Linked DNA regions of Homo sapiens: region 2 is linked to region 1. A link means that fine-mapping ties the variant in region 1 to the expression of a gene that starts in the linked region. Tissue or cell type: blood mononuclear cells. Region 1 holds a variant in brackets; the other region holds the start of a gene. All regions are shown on one strand. Distances are from middle to middle.

Region 1 (10,581 bases):
TGCGCAGCTCTATCTCCTACCTGGCCGGGCCAGGGGAGAGAAGGGAGGCCCGGGGCGGGGGAGCCCCGCGTGCTCAGCGCGCGGACCGCCTTTCCTCCTCTCCCTCCACCTGGTCCGCTCGCCCGGAGTCTGCACACAGCGCAGCTGGAAAATGTTACTTCGCTGGAAAGGTTTCCGCTGGCACTGCCAGGATCCCAAGCCGCCGCGCCAGGCCCCCTCGGTTCCTTTTTCCTCGCCAGCCCCGCAACCTCCCGGAGCGTAGGGCGCTCGCCTGGGCAGGGGCTCGGCCCCGGGCGCCGCCCCCTCTGTGCAGCGGCCTCGGGGTGCCCGGGGCCTCGACGCCCCCCGCGGGTGCGGGCAGGTGGGAGCGGCGACGCGCGCGGGCCCATCCCTCCCTCTTCCCGCCCGCCGCCCGCCCGCGCTTACTTGTGCGGCCCCGGGCGCAGCCGCGGGCGCCATCCCGTCGTGTAGAGACTGTAGCGGGAGGCACCGGGCGGCGCAGGCCGCGCCAGGAGCGGGGTGCCCCTGGCCTGCGCCCCCGAGAGCAGCGCCGCGACGGCGCACAGCCAGACGAGCAGGCGGCGGCGGCCCATAGCGGCCCCCGCGCCTCTGCCCGGCCCCGCGCGGTGCCCCCCGCCGGGTGTCCGCCTGCAGCGCCGCGCCGCCCCCGCCGCTGGTCGGCCCGGGTCCCGCCCCGAGGGTCCCGGGGTCCCCTTCGGCCCCCGAGCTCGCTGGCCCGGCCGCCTGGCGCTTCGCGGCGGCTGCGTCCCGCGGAGTGGCCGGCGCTGCTAGCGGCTGGGGCCGCGGAGGGGAGGCGGGAGGCGGGCTCTTTGCGGATTAGCATAAACTTGGGGCCGCGCCGCTCGCCGCCGCCAGCCCCTCGCCCCAGCTCCGAGCGGACGGCCGAGGAGCCGCCTGCGAACAGGAGGTTCCAAAGGGAGCAGCCCCAGGTGGCAGGGGCGCAGGCCGCCGCGCCCTGGGAGGCCCCCCGAGCACACCAGCCACTCTGTCGCCTGCGGGCACGGGGCGAGACGCAGAGAAGCGGACCCCTGAGGCCAGCCTGGGCGTGGACTTTCCAGGAGTCGTCCACCCTCAGGATACGCTTGTCTTCAGAGTCCGTGTGAACCCGGGAACTGCTCTCCAGGGCTCTGGAGCCGAGATGGCCGTGACTGGGGGCACAGCAGCACCACCTCCCCCGCCACCTCTTTGGAATAGACCCCAGATCATCCCCGTTTGCTCGCTCTGCCTCCTGGCCCCATCATTGCCCGGGAACCTTAGTTTGATAACTCCGCTGACCTCTCCCCAGGCATCCCACCTCCCCCTTACCCCGCAACCTCTGCCACGTAGCCTGGTGGCCCGGTTGCACCTCTGGTTCTCTGGAGGCGCCTGTGTTGCCTCTCTGTCTTAGGTATGGGTTGCACCGAGCCCGAAAGGCCTATCACCGCCCCAGCCCAGCCAAAAGTGCTGTGCTTTTCGTGCAACTGAAGCTCTAAGCCGGCTGGTCAGAGAAAATCCTCAGGTCTTTCTCACAAGGCACTGCCGCGGTGAAGCCAGGCGTCGTCCACATTTTGCTTGTGAAGTTGACTCTTGGAACCCAAGAGTTGGGTTTTATCGTCGTCCTCATTCAGTATCACCTTGCTAACTCTCTAACCTGCACAGAGTCCTTCTGATTCTGTCATCAGAGCGGTACTTTCCTGGCCTTGTCTCATCCACACCGGTGGCTACAGCCGTCTGTGTCTTTGCCCCAGGAGCTGATAGGTGTACAGAACTCTGGGGCTTGCTTGGAGAGACCTCCCTCCAAATTGACCTTGAGATATGAATTAATGCCTTTTGGATAGGGTGATGGTTATCAAGGATACTGGAAGGGGCAGCTCCGAAACCCACATCTATTTCCTGCCCTTAGCTTTAGTGGCTTTTGGGTTCTGTGGGGCGGACATCTGACCCCAGCTAGGCCCATCCTGCTTTCCCCCAGGCTTTGGAATCAGAACACAGAAGCTGAAGGAATCCAGCTTCCAGGTGTAGGTTGTGTGAGTTTCTCAGGGCTGTGGTAACAGCCACAGACTCAGTGGCTTAACACACAGAAATGTATTCTTGCACATTTCTGGAGGCTAACTCCAAAATCCATGGGCCAGCAGGGCAATGCCCCCTCCAGTGGCTCTGGGGAGAAGCCTTCCTTGCCTCTTCCAGCCACTGGTGGTTCCTGGCAATCTCTGGCGTTCTTTGGTCAAGGATTCTTTGTAGCAGCATCACTCCAGCCTCTACTTTCCCTCCGCATATCCCTCTTCAGGTGACCTTTTTTTCTCTGTGACTGTGATCTGTGTCCTTTCCTCTTCTTTCTGTTTTTGTTTTTTGAGCCAGAGTCTCGCTCTGTCGCCCAGGCTGGAGTGCAGTGGCGCGATCTCGGCTCACTGCAAGCTCTGCCTCCCGGGTTCACGCCATTCTCCTGCCTCAGCCTCCCGAGTGGCTGGGACTACAGGCGCCCGCCATAATGCCCAGCTAATTTTTTTGTATTTTTTTTTTTTTTTTAGTAGAGACGTGGTTTCACCGTGTTAGCCAGGATGGTCTCGATCTCCTGATCTCGTGATCCGTCCGCCTCGGCCTCCCAAAGTGCTAGGATTACAGGCGTGAGCCACCGCGCCCTGCCTTTCTGGTTGTGTTTTTAAATTTGAGACAGGGCTGGGCGCGATGGCTCATGCCTGTAATCCCAGCACTTTGGGAGGCCGAGGTGGGGGGATCACCTGAGGTCAGGAGTTTGAGACCAGCCTGGCCAATATGGTGAAACCCCATCTCTACTAAAAATAAAAAAATTAGCCGGGCGTGGTGGCGGGCGCCTGTAATCCCAGCTACCTGGGAGGCTGAGGCAAGAGAATCACTTGAACCCTGGAGGTGGAGGTTGCAATGAGCCGAGATCATGCCATTGCACTCCAGCCTGGGTGACAAGAGCGAAACTCCATCTCCATAAATAAATAAATAAATAGAGACAAGGTCTAGCTCCATCACCCAGGCTGGAATGCAGCGTCGACCTCCTGAGCTCAAGTGATCCTCCTGCCCCCACCTCCTCTGTAGCTGGGACCACAGTTGTGCACCACCATGCACAGCTCATTTTTAAAATTTCTGTAGAGATGGGCTCTCACTTTGTTGCCCAAGCTGGTCACAAACTCCTGAGCTCAAGTGATGCTCTCACCTCAGTCTCCCAAATTGCTAGGATTCTAGGCGTGAGCCACTGCACCCAGCCCAGCCTCCTCTTCTTATAAGGACACCAGTCATTGGATGTACAGCCCAACATAACCTCATCTCAAATGATTACGTCTACAAAGACCCTATTTCCAAATAAGGTCACATTCTGAGGTTCCAAATGTTCATGAATTTTGGGAGGGGCACAATTCAATCCACTACAGGGGCACTTGGCTGGTAATGATAGGAGAGACCACGAGAGCTCTGGGGGAATCATGGGAAAGGGAGAAAGAGTGTGGTCAGGGGAGAGAGGGGCAGAGTCAGGGGCTATGTGGTGAGTAACCATCTGGGGACAAGCTGTGACTTCCCTATCTGCTTCCAGTAGTCCACCATTGGAGCTAGCTTGAATGGGTTTCTGATCCCAGCAACCAAATGTGCTCTACAGAGAGAAACTTCTCTAGTCATGAACTGTAGAAATGATCCCTGAAAGTATAGTCTTACAGCAACCACATGGTCCCTAAGACAGCCTTTCACTCTCCCTATAAAAGCACCGAATGTGCTATTATATGCTCCAACCTCTAAGAGAGATGTTATGAACCATTTTGCTGAGGGCAAGATACACCATATCCCCAACAAGCTCTTGATCTTGTAACCACTGACTTTGCGCTTTTTAGGAAGTGAGAAACATCTGAGCCAGCTCCTCATCCTAGGCTGGGTGCTGACTGCCTGGCAGCATTGCCCAGCCTGGCTCTGGGAGGAACTCCCCCACCCCAGAGGCTGTGATCTTTTTCCAAGTGGTCCCACCCCTTCCTCTCACTCCCTTCCCCAGCCCCAGATGTGGGGCCCAAAACTCACAAGGAAGAGGCTGGACCCTGTTTGAGCTTGGAAATATCCACGTCATAGGGGCTAAAAGGATAGCTGGACCCCACTTCCCCCTTTCCCAGGTGGCTGACATCAAACACCATGCTCCCTCTTTCACTGCAACAGTTTTGGGATCCAGGATCTGGGCCCCATTCTAGTGGGGGTGGAGGACCTCAGTACAGGGAGATGCTCAGGGTCTTGGCTGGATCAGGCCAGAGCGGGGGTCCCCCCATAGACGATGAGGCCACTTTGCATCTGCCAGACAGGAAACCTAGGGAGGCCAGAAGCAGAGGAGGAAAGGAGGCAGTCATGTTCCTCTGACTCAGACTGGAGTTTCTACACCTGGATGGAAACGGGCCATACACGGGAGTGGGAGTGCAGTTTCAGTTCACAGGGACATGCACAACCACACCCAACCCATCCCCCATACCACTATCATGCATGTGCATGAGTTTTTCCTTTCGTACAGATGGGGTCTCACTATGCTGCCTAGGCTAGTCTCAGACTCCTGGCCTCAAGTGATCCTCCTGCTTTGGCCTCCCAAAGTATTGGGACTGCAGGGGTGAGCCCTATGCATCCTGCCTTTCTTTTCTGTTCTTTTCTTTTTTTTCTTTTCTTTTTTTTTTTTTACGGAGTCTCACTCTGTTGCCCAGGCTGGAGTGCAGTGGCGTGATCTCGGCTCACTGCAACCTCTGCCTCCCAGGTTCAAGCAATTCTCCTGACTCAGCCTCCCAAGCAGCTGGGATTACAGGCACATGCCACCACGCCTGGCTAATTTTTTGTATTTCTTTTTTTTTTTTTTAGTAGAGACAGGGTTTCGCCATGTTAGCCAGGCTGGTCTCAAATGATCCGCCCACCTTGGCCTCCTAAAGTGCTGGGATTACAGGCATGAGCCACCACATCTGGCCTTTCCTTTTCTTATTGAGGGCCCAGCACATAAGAGTATTAAAAACCACACAAAGTTGTATGGGATGCAGTTCCCCTAAAAGAGACAGAAATAGAAAGCACTGAAGCTGCTGGCTTTCTGGTACAAGCTCTTCCTGCTGCAGATGGACCCCTCCTGCACAGGGACCACAGCCCTTGAAGGCACCAGCCCTAAGGTGCAGCCCTTTGTCCCTGACCATCTCCCTTACCCTCTTTTTTTTTCTTTTTTGAGAGTGCACAGCTAGGCCTCCCTGCCCACAGAGCCACATTTGGAAGTTCTGTGCAGCAAGGCTCTTTGCCCAGGCTCACTTTTTTCTCCACATCATCACCATCAGCATTTTGATTATATCTGCACCATCATAAAAGGTTATACCAAATGCACATGAGTTTCTGAGGCAGGGGTTTGCACTGACCCCATCCAGCTAGGCAGAAGCAGGGCTCGTCCAGGATCCTAGGGGGGATAGATGTGCAGCCTGGAGGCAAGGTCCTGGAAGAGTCCAGAAATCGTGGAAACTGGGCTCTGTAAAGCCTGGACGGACTTCCATTGAGTGAGAGTAGCTTAGGAACAGCTTAGAAATTGTGACTGCTGATGGACTGTCAACATGGACATATGCAAACCAGATGCAACATTACGCAAATTATATACAAAATACATGCACAGGTCTCCCAACTATTGCAAATGCCAGATATGGTCCTTGAGGACCCTAAGTTTAGCTGAGACCTGTTGTGGGGCAGAGAGATCACCCTGGACTTGCCAGTTTCTTTTTTTTTTTTTGAGACTGAGTCTCACTCTGTTGCCCAGGCTGGAGTGCAGTGGCGTGATCTTGGCTCACTGCAACCTCCGACTCCCAGGTTCAAGTCATTCTCGTGCCTCAGCCTCTGGAGTAGCTGGCACTACAAGCGTGAGCCACCACGCCCAGCTAATTTTTGTATTTTCAGTAGAGATGGGGTTTCACCATGTTGGCCAGGCCGGTCTTGAACTCTTGACCTCAAGTGATCCACCTGCCTTGGCCTCCCAAAGTGCTGGGATTACAGGCATGAGCCACTGCACCTAGCTAGGACTTGCCAGTTTTCTTATGGTGGGCAGGAAGGGCTTTGCTCCAAGGTGGTTCACACACTGTGGGGAAGAAATCAGGCAAGGAGTCAATTAGACTCAGGTTTGAATCCCAGCTCTTCCACTCACAAGTTGCATGACCTCCCTTGAGTCACTTCACCCCTCTGAGCCTCTGCTTTCCTATACGAAAATGATTATTATGAGGAATAGATGAGAACTTTGGCCAAGGCTCCCATGTGCACAGTCGTGCACATAACAGA[C/G]GCCCAGTGAGTGTGGCAGGGCTCTGCACAGAGTCCTTTCTTGGGGGTTGGATATCTGGGCCTCCTTTCTAGTCACTGCAGTAGCAGCTGTGCCCCCTCAGGCTGTGGGCAGGACCTTCTTGCAAAGCAGCACATGCAGCTCTGGGTTTGGAAAATGTCAGTGCTTGGATGGACCAGGAATCCATGTACCTCTCACTCGTCAAGAAATCTGGCAGAGGTCACACTCAACAGGGGTGCTGTGGGTACCCCAGCCAGACTCCCTTTCCCTGGTCAGTGTACCCATGAATCCCCTGGCTGCAGGTGTGATTACTGGGAATGCTCCCAGCTGCCCCTTCTGTGAATTGCCCTTGGCTGAGGAGTGACTGGCTGATAGGGTGAAATGGTTTGGCTGTGTCCCCACCCAAATCTCATCTTGAATTGTAACTCTCACAATTCCCATGTGTCGTGGGAGGAACCTGGTGGGAGGTGATTGGATTATGGGGGCAGGTCTTTCCTGCACTGTTCTCATGATAGTGATTCAGTCTCACAAGATCTGATGGTTTTAAAAAGGGGAGTTTCCCTGCACAAGCGCTCTTTTCTTGTCTGCCGCCATGTGAGATGTGCCTTTCACCTTCCACCATGATTGTGAGGCCTCCCCAGCCACGTAGCTGTAAGTCCAATAAACCTCTTTCTTTTGTAAACTGCCCAGTCTAGAATATGTCTTTATCAGCAGTGTGAAAATGGACTAATATACAGGGGGACAAAAAAGGCAGCCTCCTCGCCTCATGGTGGACAGCCCAGTGTTAGTTTATGTTGCAGAGCCCCCTTGGTCAGGCCCCTCTAGACTCTACCTGGGATCCATTCTTGCTCTATTTCCATCCTCTCCTGTTTTCCTACCTCCCTTATGTATCTCTCCCAGGAGCCCCCTTGATAAATGACTTATAACTAGATCCCTGTCTCAGGATCTGCTTTTGTGGAACCCAACCCAAGAGAGGGGGACAGACCTGCATGCAGAGGGGGACATGAACTTGTATAGTCAGGAACCATAGGGTAGCGTGGGCTCACAGAGGAAGAAGTGCCTGGGTGCCTGAGCTTGGGGGAAGGGATCAGAGGGTGTTTCACAAAACAGGCAACACTAGAGTTCACCGCACGGGGAGAAAGCACCGTGGGTGGTGGGTGCGGCATGTGCATGGCCTGGAGGCAGGAGAGAGCCTGGTATGTATGGGGAACCCCGCAGAGCTCTGGGTAGCCCAGGCTCCAAGAGAGGTTGGCAGGGGCCAGACAAGAGGGGCCTTGAATACCCCAGTGAAAAGTCTGGACTTTACAGCTGGAAACGATGCATGCAGAACTGTCGGGAAAAACATCCTGTGGCTGCAGCTGTGTGGAGCAGACACACGAGGTGGGGTGCCGGTGGGGTGGCCCTGGCAGCTGTCAGCCACCAGGCTAACAGGGACCGAGGGATGAGGAACAGGGCTAGATTCTAGAGGCTTTCAGGACAAAGGACTAAAAGGCCTTGGTGGCTAATCTGGGGCTCTGGGTGTGGGAAGGAGTCTAGAAGGTACCACAAAGAGAGGAGACAAAACATCAGGGCTGAGGCAGGGTTGAATGAGCTGTACAGGGCAGGGGTCTGCATTCCCTGTGCCCACCACAGCTAGAGCCAGGCTGAGCCTCCAGTTGGAAGGTCCGGACACTGACCAGAGTATGTGGCACAGCTGGCCTGACCCCAGTAAGGACCTGGGGCTGCCCCTTGCTGGAGGGGCTGGCCTCCAGGCCTGATTAGGACAGGGATGGGGAGAGGCTGGGGGCGGGGGAGTAGAGTGCAGAGCTGCTCAGGCATTGATGCGGGGGTGTGGTTGCAAGGCCCTGGGAAGGGCTCACCATCAGCTCTCCTCTAACTCTTCTATTCATGGACACCAGAGTAAAAACTACACAAGATTACCCACTGGTGATGGGGGAGGCAGGCTTGCAATGCAGGGTGTGTGCAGAGAGGCCAAAACAAGCAGGGGAGGGGGCTACCCTCCATGGGGGGAAGGAAGGGGAGGGTGTTGCCATGGAAGACTCATGCTTGGACAGGCAGAACCTGACCTTCACCCAGACACTGTCCTTATCTCAGACCTGCTCTGCCTTAATTCCTTAATTTGCTGGGACATTTGCTGGGCACCCGGTGCTGGAAGCACAGACAGGTCGGCTCCAGGCTCTGTGCTCAAGGCATCCAGAGGGGCAGAGGTGGATGAGAGTTAGAGAAGCCCCAGGAGGGGCCAGAAAGGGGCCTGGGGAGGTGAGAGGGGAAAGAGCATCCATGGTGGGAGACACATGCTCCAATCAGAGGGAGGGGACTTAGGAGGGGACATGGCAGGAGGGGAGAGGGCTGCGTGCAGGCTGAGGACTTGAGGAGGCTGGGGGTTGCTGCATTTTGATGCTTGGCCTTCAGCCCCTTGAATCCACTCCAGACCACTTCCTAGTGCCACTGCCATTGTCTATTTCTGAGTCGAGCTCCAATCCAGACTGGCAGTCCTGGATGCGGGGGGCCATCTCTTGCCCAAGTTTGCCAGATGAATGGACCGTGGGTGTTAGATGGGTCATTCTGTAGCCATGAGGAGATGGCACTAGGCAGGCTGGCACTGGCATCCAGGCAAGAGATGCTGGAGATGAGAGAGGGTGGGCATTTTGGAGAGAGAGTCACCAGCCTTCAATGAGCTGGCTGGAGAAGGCTCAGGGCTAAGGTCAGGGTCATGGGCCCCACCCTGGTGGGGCCCCAGGATTCTGTCTTATGCTTAGGGCTAGATGATATATCTGGCGTCTATTCAAAAGGGGTCCCTGCCAGGGCCTGACCTTCTGACACCCCTTTCCCCTCCAGAGCAGCCCAGCCTTCTCCTTTTGCCCGGGTCCCACCCACCTGCCCTTGCCATGTGACCTTTGAGGCCTTCCCCAGGTTGAGTCTTTGCAGCCAGGGCTCCCACATTCCTGGCTATGCTGGTGTTGGCCAGCAGCCCTAGTTCCTTTGGGAAAGAGCGGACAGGAGGCTCCCATGGCGGGGACTGTATCCTTTCCTTCCCTCCCTTGCCCCAGGGGCTGCACTGGGATTAGGGTATCTTCCTCCCTGGCCATATCACCACAGTCCCACCTCCAGTCACAGTCTCCCCTCCCCTCCCTCTCCCTCCCTCTCTCCATCCTCCTCCTGTTTCTCTGGCCTCATGAAGAGCCCCATCATCCCCCAGCTGCCCACCATGGAGTGGGTGGTTGGTAGTGCCAGTTAGGTGGCAGTGCAGGTGCCTGAGCCAGGGTGAAGGCTGGAACCATGTTGGTGAGGATGGAAGGGACCAGCTGAAAGTATCCAGGCGATGAGGCCTTTTGACTTTTGAGGGGCTCCAGGATGACTACAGGTTTCTGGCATGGGGGGTCTCTTTTGCTGAGACAAGGACAGAGGGGTACACCAGTCTGGAGGGAAGCCACACTGAATTGGAGGTGCCTTCAGGTACCCCGGGGGAGAAGGCTGTCTGGAGGGCAGCAGGATATGCACACTGTTAAGGTGTCCCATTTGTTGGCTGCCCCTTTGAAGCTGGGGGCAGGGCAGGGGGCCAGAGCATACTGTAGTGCAAGGTCAGAGGCCCACCCTACCCCACTGCTGTCCAGGGCTCCTGTTAGAGCCACAGGGAAGTCGCTGACTGGCTGTCCTTGTGACCCCTCCTCCCAGATAGCTGATGAAGGCACTTGGTCAGAAGGCACGGCTGGCTGAGGCCACAGCCCCTCTGCTGCCCCGAGGCCATCCTTCCCTGTTCCACGGGCCTGGCACTTCCCAGGCGGCTGCCGCACCACTGACCACCCTTCCAGCTTTGGGTCCCTCGTGGGTTTTTCGTCCTTTCCCCCATCCCTAGCCTCTCTTCTCACCATCTCCTTCCCAGGGACCCTCCCTTTCTCCTCCCGCAAACCTCATTCTTCTCCTTTTCCCATAATCAGGAAGAGCTTTGATTGCCCATTATACCTGGAGCCCAAATTGTCAGCAGGAGAGAAACGGGTTTCCCCCACCTTGAGGGCCTGACCTTAGACACTCAAGTGTGCCAGCCAGGGCAGCATTCCTGGGAAGAGAGGGGAGACGTCTAGGTTCCAACCAGACGAGAGTCACCCTCCCCAGAAGAATGGGCCAAATGACTCCTAATACAAGGGAAAATAGAGACAACCCCCCAAAAAAAGTTTTACAACAAAACCAGCTGAATGTTCAAAACCTGCCCCATCTCATTTCTTTGAAATTGGAGAGAATTTAACTCATCAGCAAAAATAAAGGCAATGGGAATGAAGAGATCTCCAAAGGAGTTTGTAGGCCGGGCACAG
Region 2 (10,581 bases), 31 kb before region 1:
AGACATGGTCCACATGCCAGATGGAGGGCGGGTGGGGGCAGAAGGTACACCCCAAGAAGAAAAAGAATAGGAGGTCCCTTTGTTGAGGATCAAACCCATGGGGCAGTTGGGAAATCCTGAAGGGATTTTTAGGCCACAGAAAGCTCCACTTCCTACATTGGTTAATGATCTTTCAGGATTCCTCTCCAGGCTAGAAATTACAAACAAATTCCAAAAAGGCTGCTAAACTGACGTCTTTCCGGGAGTCGGGAACCGCACAGTTGCAATCTAGACAAGCCGGGTCACTCCTCATCTGGCACAAAAGGTACCTTTAGCAGGAGCTGCGGATGGCAACAGAAGTCTCCTGCCCTCCAGCCTGAGGGTCCCTGATAACATCCAGGAATTGTTTCCATTGGCTGGGAGGAGAGGCCCCCAGTGGCTGTGCACAGTTCTGGCCACATCCTCAGGAGAAGGAAACAAGGAAGGCAAAAGCAACCCAGCCAGGGACACAGAGCAGGAACCTCTCCAGCCGGGGGCGGAGGGGGCTGCTCCCCCAGCTCCATCTCTCACCTAGCCTAGGAAGGAGCTGCGCTTGGACCCGGCAGCCCCGACCTCGCAACCACGTACCTGCCCACTGCTCACTGACATGGCTGGGGGTTGAGCAAATGTCTTGAGAGCAAAAGCTCCTGGATTGAAGGAAGTGGGGAGGCCTGGCACCTCCTGGGTCTCTCTTCACACCCCAATTTCCATCTTCTCCAGCATTTACTCCACCTGGAAGGCAGAGGCTTTACCCTCAGCACTCACTACAGCGTCTTCCTTCGCTCTGAGGGCAGGGATTTTATACCCTTCCCACCTCCCAACCTAAACTATCCCCAGGTGGCTCAGCCTGGCCTTTGTACAAATGAGTCCCTGCACCTGGATCACTGTGCTCACCTGTCTTCACCTAATTCCAACTTACTTTTCCACTCTCTGGAAAGCATTCTCTGACCCTTCCCACCCCACTATGGGCTCCTGGGCTTGCCCCACCTCAGGTTTCATCATCTTATATTGCAATTCCCTGGCTGCTGGTCTGTTCTTCCCCTCCCCTCCCCATCCTCTAAGACTATGGGGCTCCTGCAGCATCTCTAGTGCCTGGCCCAGGCATGGTGCTCAGGAAGAACACAATCACCCTGTTGTCCTCTGTTCCTCTGCCGGGATGGGAGAGTCTGGTAGTCACTTTATCTTTTACAGCAGCAGGTCTCAGACTAGAGTGAGCATCAGAATCCACTTGGTGGTGCAGGCAGGGAGGGACTTATTAAAATACAGATTCTGGGCCCTACCCCCAGAGTTTCTGATTCAGTAGGTCTGGGGTAGGGCCTGAGAACTGGTATTTCTAACAAGTTCCCAAGTGCTGCTGCTGGTCCAGGGACCACACTTTAAGAATCACTGTTGGGGCTGGGTGCTGTGGCTCACGCCTGTAATCCCAGCACTTTGGGAAGCCAAGGTGGGTGGATCACTTGAGGTCAGGAGTTCGAGACCAGCTTGGCCAACACGGTGAAACTCCCTCTCTACTCAAAATACGAAAATTAGCCGGGCATGGTGGCACGAACCTGTAAACCTGTAATCCCAGCTACTCAGGAGGCTGAGGCAGGAGAATCACTTGAACCTGGGAGGCAGAGGTTGCAGTGAGCCAAGATTGCGTCACTGCACTCCAGCCTGGGTGAAAGAGCGAGACTCCATCTCAAAAAAAAAAAAAAAAAAAAAGAATCACTGTTAGCCTGGCATGGTGGCTCACGCCTGTAATCCCAGCACCTTTGGGAGGCCAAGGTGGGTGGATCACTTGAGGTCAGGAGTTTGAGATCAGCCTGCCCAACATGGTGAAACCCCGTTTCTACTAAAAATACAAAAATTAGCTAGGCGTGGTGGTGGGCGCCTGTAATCCCAGCTACTTGGGAGGCTGAGGCAGGAGAATTGCTTGAACCTGGGAGGCAGAGGTTGCAGTGAGCCAAGATCACACAAATCCCCATCTCAGGGTGTCAGTTTCTTCACTGGTAAAATGGGATAACTACTGTCCCCATTATCCTGGGTTTTGTGAAAATCCAATGAGATAATGCAAATGAAGAACTCATGCACCCAGTAGGTGCTCAATAAATGTTAGCGATCCCTCCTGGGAGTAGGCAGGAGACATGGCAGGCAGGGAAAGCATGAACAGGAGCAGAGATGGGAAAGGTCCCAAGCAGGTCAGCTGGGCTGGCAGAAGAGCCAAGGCCCAGCACAGCAGCCAGGGAGTGTCCTGTAGAAGTAACTGGGAGCCACGCACAGTTCTGGAGCTGGGCAGTGACAGGTGGAAGCTGAATGTGGCAACATGGGGCAGAGGCCATTGCCGGCAGCAAGTCCCACGTGCTGGAGACTTGGCTGTTTGGCTAGACATAGGGTTGCCAGATTTAGCAAAGAAGATAAAGTATGTCCAGTTAAATTTGAATCTCAGATGAATAATGAATACTTTCTTTTAGTATAAGTATGTCCCAAATATTGCTTGGGTATACTTATATTAAAAAGCAGTTGCTGTGCATCTGAAATTCAGATTTACATGAGTGTCCTTTATTTTTATTTGCTGAATCTGGCAATCCCAACTAGACACCAGTTGCCTGCCCCCCAGCCCTTAGTCCTGCATGCAGTGGGAGACCCAGCCCCAGGGTCCACTGCCTCCCTTCCCACCTTCAACAAAGCCACCAGGAGTGATTGATGAGCTGCTCCCAGAAGCCAGTATTGCTGCTCTGAGTGATCACAACTACAGGCCTGGGTAAGGGGGCCCTCTCACCTCATGCCAGGTTCACCCAGCAAGAAAGTAGAGGGGCACAGTCACTAACCACTGGGTCTGTAAATTAACAAAGCACATAGGGTGAATGGAATGACTCATCCCAGGACTTTGAGAGGCAGAGACAAGAGGATTGCTTGAGCCCAGGAGTTCGGGACCAGCCTGGGTGACATAGTGAGACACCCATCCCTACAAAAAATTTTTAAAAATTAGCTAGATGTGGCTGGGCACCGTGGCTCACGCCTGTAATACCAGCACTTTGGGAGGCCCAGGCGGGTGGATCATGAGGTCAAGAGTTCAAGACCAGCCTGGCTAAGATGGCAAAACTCTATCTCTCCTAAAAATACAAAAATTAGCCAGGCATGGTGGCAGGCACCTGTAATCCCAGCTACTCATGAGGCTGAAGCAAATAATCGCTTGAACCTGGGAGGCGGAGGTTGCAATAAGCCGAGATTGTGCCACTACACTCCAGCCTGGGCAACAGAGCGAGACTCTGTCTCTAAAAAAAAAAAAAAAAAAAAAAAAAAGCCAGGTGTGATCATGCATGCCTGTGGTCCCAGCTCCTCGAGAGGCTGAAGTAGGAGAATTGCTTGAGCCCAGGAGGTCAAGGGTGCAGTGAGCTGTGATTGTGCCACTGCACTCCATCCTGGGTGACAGAGCCAGACCCTGTCTAAAACAAAACAAAAAAACAATAAAACACATAAGCTACCAAATTCTGTAAAGAAGGAAGTACCACCTGCATTCTTGGATTAATGAAGAAACAAACAGCTGCCAGTGATATAGGCTCATCCGATGAGTATACCCAAGCAGAGGAAAAAATGGCCTCCACCTTCAACCCCAGAAATGGGCAAACACAAGTGTCCATGCTGCTTGCACCCTCAGAGAAAGCCCTGGAGATGGTGATGTCAACCACAAGCTAGAGTGGGACAGTCTCTGCCTTATTCAGTTCCATTCAGTGTTAGAACAAGTCATACTAGCAGAGGCTGTTCTATCTGCCTTTCTTCTCCTACCCTCATCACCAAATCCCAGATGATTGAGAGTTCCAGAAACGAGCCTGTCAGAAATGCAATTTTTCTTTTTCTTTTTTTTTTTTTTTGAGACAATGTCTTGCTCTGTCACCCAGGGTGGAGTACAGAGGCGCCATCTCAGCTCACTGCAACCTCCACCTCCTCGGTTCAAGTGATTCTCCTGCCTCAGCCTCCTGAGTAGCTGAGACTACAGCTGTGCACCACCATGCCTGGCTAATTTTTTTTTTTTTTGTATTTTTAATAGAGACGGGGGACCGAGCGCAGTGGCTAACGCCTGTAATCCCAACACTTTGGGAGGCTGAGGTGGGTGGATCACGAGGTCAGGAGATCGAGACCATCCTGGCTAACACAGTGAAACCCTGTCTCTACTAAAAATACAAAAAATTAGCTGGGCATGGGGATGGGCCCCTGTAGTCCCAGCTACTCAGGAGGCTGAGGCAGGAGAATGGCGTGAACCCGGAAAGTGGAGCTTGCAGTGAGCAGAGATGGTGCCACTGCACTCCAGCCTGAGTGACAGAGCGAGACTTCATCTCAAAACAAAAACAAAAACAAAAAAACAGAGATGGGGTTTCACCGTGTTGGCCAGGCTGGTCTCCAACTCCTGACCTCAGACGATCCGCCCACCTCTGCCTCCCAAAGTGCTGGGATTGCAGGCGTAAGCCACCTCACCCCAGCCGCAAATGCAATTTCTGCAACAACCTTTATATCAACTTTTTTTCCTCTAACAATGAACAATGAAAACAATTTGTGCTCCATCTTTAAAAATGTGTGACACAAAAATTTTTTAAATAAAAATAAATATGTGATAAACATTCCTGAATGCCTAGTGTGTGCCCTGGCGCTGTGCTCTGCATTTAATTTGGATCAGCAGTTCTCAGCCTTGTTTGTACATTACAACCAACTGGAGAGGTTTTTAAACTCCCAGTATCCGGGGCATCAGTATTCGTCTAGGGCACAGTGATTCTAACACACAGTCAAGGTTGAGAACCACTTATTTAATTCATCCTGTAAATCCTCACAATAGAATCCTGCAAGGTAGCTTTTATCACCACCTTTGCCGATGAAATTGAGGCTCAAAGAGGTAAATTGATTTCGGCATCTGTAGCCCCAACCTGTGACCTCTCCTTCCTTCCTTCTCGGGCTCCCTTCAGGGATTTCCTGATGTTACAGAAAATGGTATGTATGACGCTGCCCTCCTGGCCACCTTGACATAGCTCTGCTCCCAACAGGGCTCTTCTGAGATAGCAGCCAGACACTACCTGGGATCAGGACTGATACTAAATGACTTCTGCCAAAATGAGGACAACTGAGGCCAGTCACTTCCAAACAGGTTCTGTCACCCTGAGTCAGAATAATGGCAGCTACCTCTCCTCCTCACCGCCCAGTCGTTTCTAAGCCTGGCTCGTCGCCGTTGCTGCTCCGCCAAGCCTTTCCTCGGTGCCCTCTCTCTTTTAGAACAAATTACTTCATCTCCAGGCCCTTCTCAGGGCAGCTTCTTTGCAGGGGCCATAGGGCGTCGGAAAGGTCTTTGGTCCAGGAAAGCCGCGAGCCACAGATCCAAGAGGAAAAAGCCGTTCCCGGCCCGGGCCTTGCCCAAGGCACGAGAGTAAATGCACCTTCCGCGTGCCTCGGCGCACCTGGGCTCACCTGTCCCCTCCCGCAGTGCCTGCAGACAGGGAGGGAGCGCGGCTGGGCCAGAAGGCTGATCACCGCCTGCCCCCTGCTGGCCAGTGTCAGTATTGAGCCCGCTGCCGCTCGACCAGAACGTCCCAGGGATGGAATGAAGGTGCGGGCATTTATGGAGCGCCTGCTGTTTGTCAGGCGAGGTACTGATAAGCGCTGGAGTGTAAGGATGTACGTGACCTGCTCTCAGAGTTCAAATTTAAATGAAGAGATATACATTAATCAAGTAGTCATTCAAGCAAATATGAAATTACAACTGTGGGCTATGCGAACAGATGACGCGAGGGGCCTGTCCAGTCTGGGAGATACGGGTGGGTTCAGGAAAAGCTGCCCCCAGGAGGGGACGTTTGAGCGCCAGGAGCCGCGCAAAGTCATTTCATGTCATCTCTAAAATCCTGCAAGGCGGCTTTCCCCCTTGACAAAACAGGAAATGGGATCAAATTGAGGAAGGAATTCACCCAAGATCACACAGCAAGCTGGAAGCAAATCTGGGAGGAGCTAGGTCCGCCCCGTTCCGAAATCCACACTTTTCTGGAGGTGGGGCAGGCGGTGGCACAGGGACTTGGGGCGGGGTCTGGTGGGCGGGGCATGAAGTCTGGCCCCGCCCCCGCCTCCGAGGCCAAAGGGCGCCCTGGGCGGGGATCGGAGCAGGGGCGGGGTCTTTCCAGGGAGTGGAGCCTGGGCAGATTGGGGCCTGTGGAGGCCGCACTAGGATCGTAGAAGGAGTGGAGCCGTGCTCTCACCCTGTCTTAGAGGACCCGGAAGCGCCAAGTGACTGAGGGCCGAAGACACTCACCTGTGGAGCCTGTGCACGTAGGTAGAGGCGGCGGCTCTGAGTCCAGGAGCTCCAGTGGGCAGCTCCCCAGGTAGGGCCCAACTCGGGGGGAGAAGAGATGACCCTCTCCCCTCCCGCCCTGCCCATCTGTCCTGCCATCCTACATTCCTTCCTTCCTGTCCGCGGGCCTGGGTCCACCCCTAGCTGTAAGATGGGGACGCAGGGGTGGAGGGACTGGCCTCATTTTGTCCCTTTTTCCCTGGCCCAGCGGCTGCAGGCCCCCTGGACACCCAGAACGTAGAGTCTGGAGAGGAGACGTCGAAACCTCCCAGGGGAGGCTGGCCCAGCTTTACCCCAGCCTGACTGTGTGACCTTGAGGAGGACAGCCACTTTCTCTGGTACCCAGTGTCCTCAGTTGCAAAACAGTGACTGGCCCTTGCCCTGCTTGCCCTGAGACTGGGCAGATCAGATGCTGTAGCTGCTGGGGGCTGGGGTGGCGCTTTCTCTCTACTGGGGCACTAGGAGTGCTTACTCTCCTGCTCCCTCTGGTCCTCGGTGGAGAGCCACACCCTTCATCCACCCAAACCTGGGAGCCCCGAGGGCTGAGAGCCTAGTCCTAGGGCAGCTTGCTCTGGCTTCCCTGTGCTAGAGTTGTAGTCTAGCCTGGAAGGCCTGTGAACATCCCCAAGGTGGGGTGTGAGGCCTACGTGGAGTGCACATGCTCGTTTTGCAAATAGTGGTGCCACCATTGTGCATGGCCTTGAGTGCCAAGTTAAGAAGTCCAAACTCCGCTGGGCGCGGTGGCTCACGCCTGTAATCCCAGCACTTTGGAGACTGAGGCGGGTGGATCATGAGGTCAGGAGATCGAGACCATCCTAACACGGTGAAACCCCGTCTCCACTAAAAATACAAAAAATTAGCCGGGTGTGGTGGCACACGCCTGTAGTCCCAGCTACTCGGGAGGCTGAGGCAGGAGAATTGCTTGAACCCAGCAGGCGGAGCTTGCAGTGAGCCAAAATCATGCCACCGCACTCCAGTCTGGGTGACAGGGCAAGACTCCATCTCAAAAAAATAAATAAATAAAAGAAGTCCAAACTCTCAACTGCTGGCAGGGGCAGTTCATCAGAGTATGACCTGCAGTGCCCACAGGACCAGCCTGCATGAGTGGGGCTGTCATGATGCTGCTGCTGATAGGTGTACATACAGGTTTTTATTGCATTCCAGGGCTTTACACAAAGTCATTAGTTACTCACACGTGCCTGATGTTATTCCCATTTTGGAGGCTGAGACTGAGGGTCAGAGAGATGAAGTCACTTGCCCATGGTCACAGCTAGCAAATGGCGGAGTGGGGATCAGCACCCAGATAATCTGGTGCCTTTTCTCCTAATGTCCTGTGGCCACCCGTGATCTGGGCATCTGGTTATAAAGTCTTAACCTAGGACAGCTGGAGAAAGGAGGGGCTGGATGAGCAGGAAATTGGGGGAGAAGATTCAGAGGGCTAGGGAGGGAGAGAGGGGTAGTGACTAGTCCTAAGGGGTATTCGGCTTCCTGGGAAGGTGTGAGGAGTGAAGTGGCTGATTTTAGACATGTTAGTTTGTGGGTGGAGGGTGATAGAGGGGAGCCAAGCAGAGCTCTCCTCTGTCTGGAAAAGAACAAGGAGGTAGAGCTGGGTCCTGGGAAAAGGGGGTGCCTAAGGGATAGGTGAAGACAGAGGCGGGCTCACAGAAGGCCCCCAAAATGCTGAGCAGGCAGATGTGGGGGGGCTCACTGGAAGCCCCCAAAATGCTGAGCAGGCAGATGTGGGGGGCTCACAGAAGGCCCCCAAAATGCCGAGCAGGCAGATGTGGGGGACATCCATTGGTGAAGTGGGGGGAACAGAGAGAGGAGAGAATTCTGGACTCCCGTGACATTAGATCTGAGGGAGATGGGTCTAAAAAACTGAGGCCTTGGTTCACAGAAGGGGAAACTGAGGCCAGCCAGTTACTTGCCTGAGAATACTCCAGGGCTGGATCCGAGTAGGACCCCGGGTGCCATCTCTGCTATTCGGCCCTTTCTACTAGATCGTGGTTCTCAGCTGGGGGCAATTTTGTCCCCCAGGAGACATTTAAAAATGTCTGAAGACAATTTGGCTGTCACAACCTGGAGCTGCGGGGGATGAAGTGCTACTGGCATCTAATGGGCAGAGACCAGGGATGCTGCTGAATATCCTACAGTGCACCCACCCACCCCCCAGCAAAGAATTATCTGGCCCCAAAGGACAGTAATGCTGAAGCTGAGAAACTGCACTAGGGCTTAATAGGGCAGAAAGCTCAGGCTTGGGCCTCCAGCTGGATGGACCTTTGCCCCAACCCCGGCTCTGCCCCTCCCCATGCTTGCTCCTTAATTCCTGGAAGCCTCTGGAGTCCTCTCTGCTTTTCCTGGGCACAGTGGTTTAGAGGTCTGCCCACCAAGTGTCTGTCACCACTCTGTCTCCCCAGACCTGTATTCAGAGTTTGGCATTAGGTAGGGAGAAACCAAAGTGGAAATGTCCCATCTAGCACATGGCAGGTGCCTTGCAGATAAACTTGATTTGAGTGACATCTTAGGGGTCCAGGGAGTTTCATTTCATCCCATTTTCACTTTGGCAATTTGAATTGTGTCTTATGTTTGTGACGCTCTGACATAGACTGAAAGAATCCACTGCTTCATCCGATGTCCTAGGATGGGCAGGATGTGGCATTATCTGAGAAATGCTGTGGAGGTGGGGGTCTTGTCGTTTAGGCTCTTCCAAGAGTAGACTGTGGACTGGGAACACAAAAGCAGTTCCTTTCAAACACATGAAAGGCTGCAGGAATCACCTCGGGATCCTGTTAAAATGCAGATGCTAGGCCAGGTGCAATGGCTCACGCCTGTAGTCCCGGCACTTTGGTAGGCCAAGGTGGGAGGATCACTTGAGTCCAGGAGTTTGAGACCAACGTGGGCAACATAGTGAGACCCTGTCTCTACAAAAGAAATTTAAAAGTTAGCCAGTTATGGTGGTACATGCCTGTAGTCCCAGCTACTCAGGAGGCTGAGGCAGGAGGATCACTAGAGCCTGGGAGGTTGAGGCCGCAGTGAGTCATTTTGGTGCCACTGCACACCAGCCTGGGTAACAGAGTGAGATCCTGTCTCAAAAAAAAAAAAGAAAAGAAAAGAAAAGAAAAATATGCAGATGCTGATTCAGTAGGGCTGAGTTGGGCCTAAGTTTCTGTTTCTAACAAGCTCCCAGGTGATGCTGATGCTGATGTTTGTTGCTGGTGCATACCACATTTTGAGTGCAGGGCATTGCAGGGCTGTGCAGAAGTGGCCATGGGCCATGCAACCAACTCTTGGGTGGTTTGGAAGCATGGAGTGGAAGGAGACCATGCTCTAGAGTCAGGAGAGCTGGATATGAGTCTTTACTCCCTCTCTCCCCTCCCTATACCCCTTCTATGGCCTGTCAGCTTAGAAGAGCTTGAATAGTTTCCTCACCTGTAAAGTCACTTAACCTTGGGTAAGTCACTTAGCTTCTTTGCTAAGTGGTCTTGCATGGCAGGCTGTCCTCCAGGGGTTCTGACCCAGGGTCTGAGAGAAGAAAGTGCTCTGTAGAGATAGGACAGTCTGGGTCTTGGCAGGCAGAGGGGCAGCAGGCCACTGGCCTGGCCAGGAGGGCAGGGGTGATCACCTGAAGCTGCTGGGGCAGGCACTGTGCCAGCTTGGAGGAGGCTCTCATCATAGCCCTGTTTTTTCTCTGAGGCCGCCTCAGCCTCCTGCTTTGGGCTTACCCAGGCCTGTCTGGTGTGGGAAAGCTGGAGAGACCGGTCTGGCTGGGGGAGGGAGCAGCTTCAGTGGGCTGAGGCCAGCCCAAGGCCTGATTGTGGGTCTGAGCGCCTAGCCAGCTCAGCCCTGGTCTGAGGAGCTGGGGTTAGGGTTGAAATTGGGGTCTGAGAACTATAGCCTGGACACCGCTGGGGTCAGGCTGTGCATGGACAGGCTTCCCACCAGGGAAACTGGGAAGGAATTTGTAGTTTGGGGCCTTAAGCCCCCAGCTATAGGGGATGCTCTGCCTTGAGCATCTGACCCCAGGAATGGGGCTGAACAGAGCCTTGAGTACCTGGGGTGCTCCCACCCTTGGTCCCCCATAAGTCAGCTACAATCGCCCAGCAAGACACCTTCCAACTCACAGGACCAGCAGATAGCAAGACAGCTGAGCCCATTTCTCAGATGGAAAAGTGGAGGCTCCTTCGTTCCCACTTCTTGGGAAAAGAAGAGTACTCATTAGCACAGTCACCCATTATCCAGCAGGGCCCTGGGCCTGCTAT

The links. PIP is the estimated chance that this variant, and not a neighbour inherited with it, causes the effect.
Region 2: it holds the start of LPIN3, and the variant in region 1 is fine-mapped to the expression of LPIN3 in blood mononuclear cells (TOPMed, PIP above 0.99).

The regions. Positions count from the first base shown.
Region 1 is chr20:41,366,042-41,376,622 of GRCh38, forward strand. It overlaps EMILIN3 (elastin microfibril interfacer 3), which reads right to left and starts at 777. Exons shown (of 4, transcript NM_052846.2): 1 at 427-777. The coding sequence starts at 593. It also overlaps the pseudogene LOC124904985. RefSeq lists an enhancer at 1-15. The variant C/G (reference allele first, on the strand shown) is at 6,274.
Region 2 is chr20:41,334,650-41,345,230 of GRCh38, forward strand. It overlaps LPIN3 (lipin 3), which reads left to right and starts at 6,172. Exons shown (of 20, transcript NM_022896.3): 1 at 6,172-6,353. RefSeq lists an enhancer at 5,784-5,833 and a silencer at 5,994-6,153.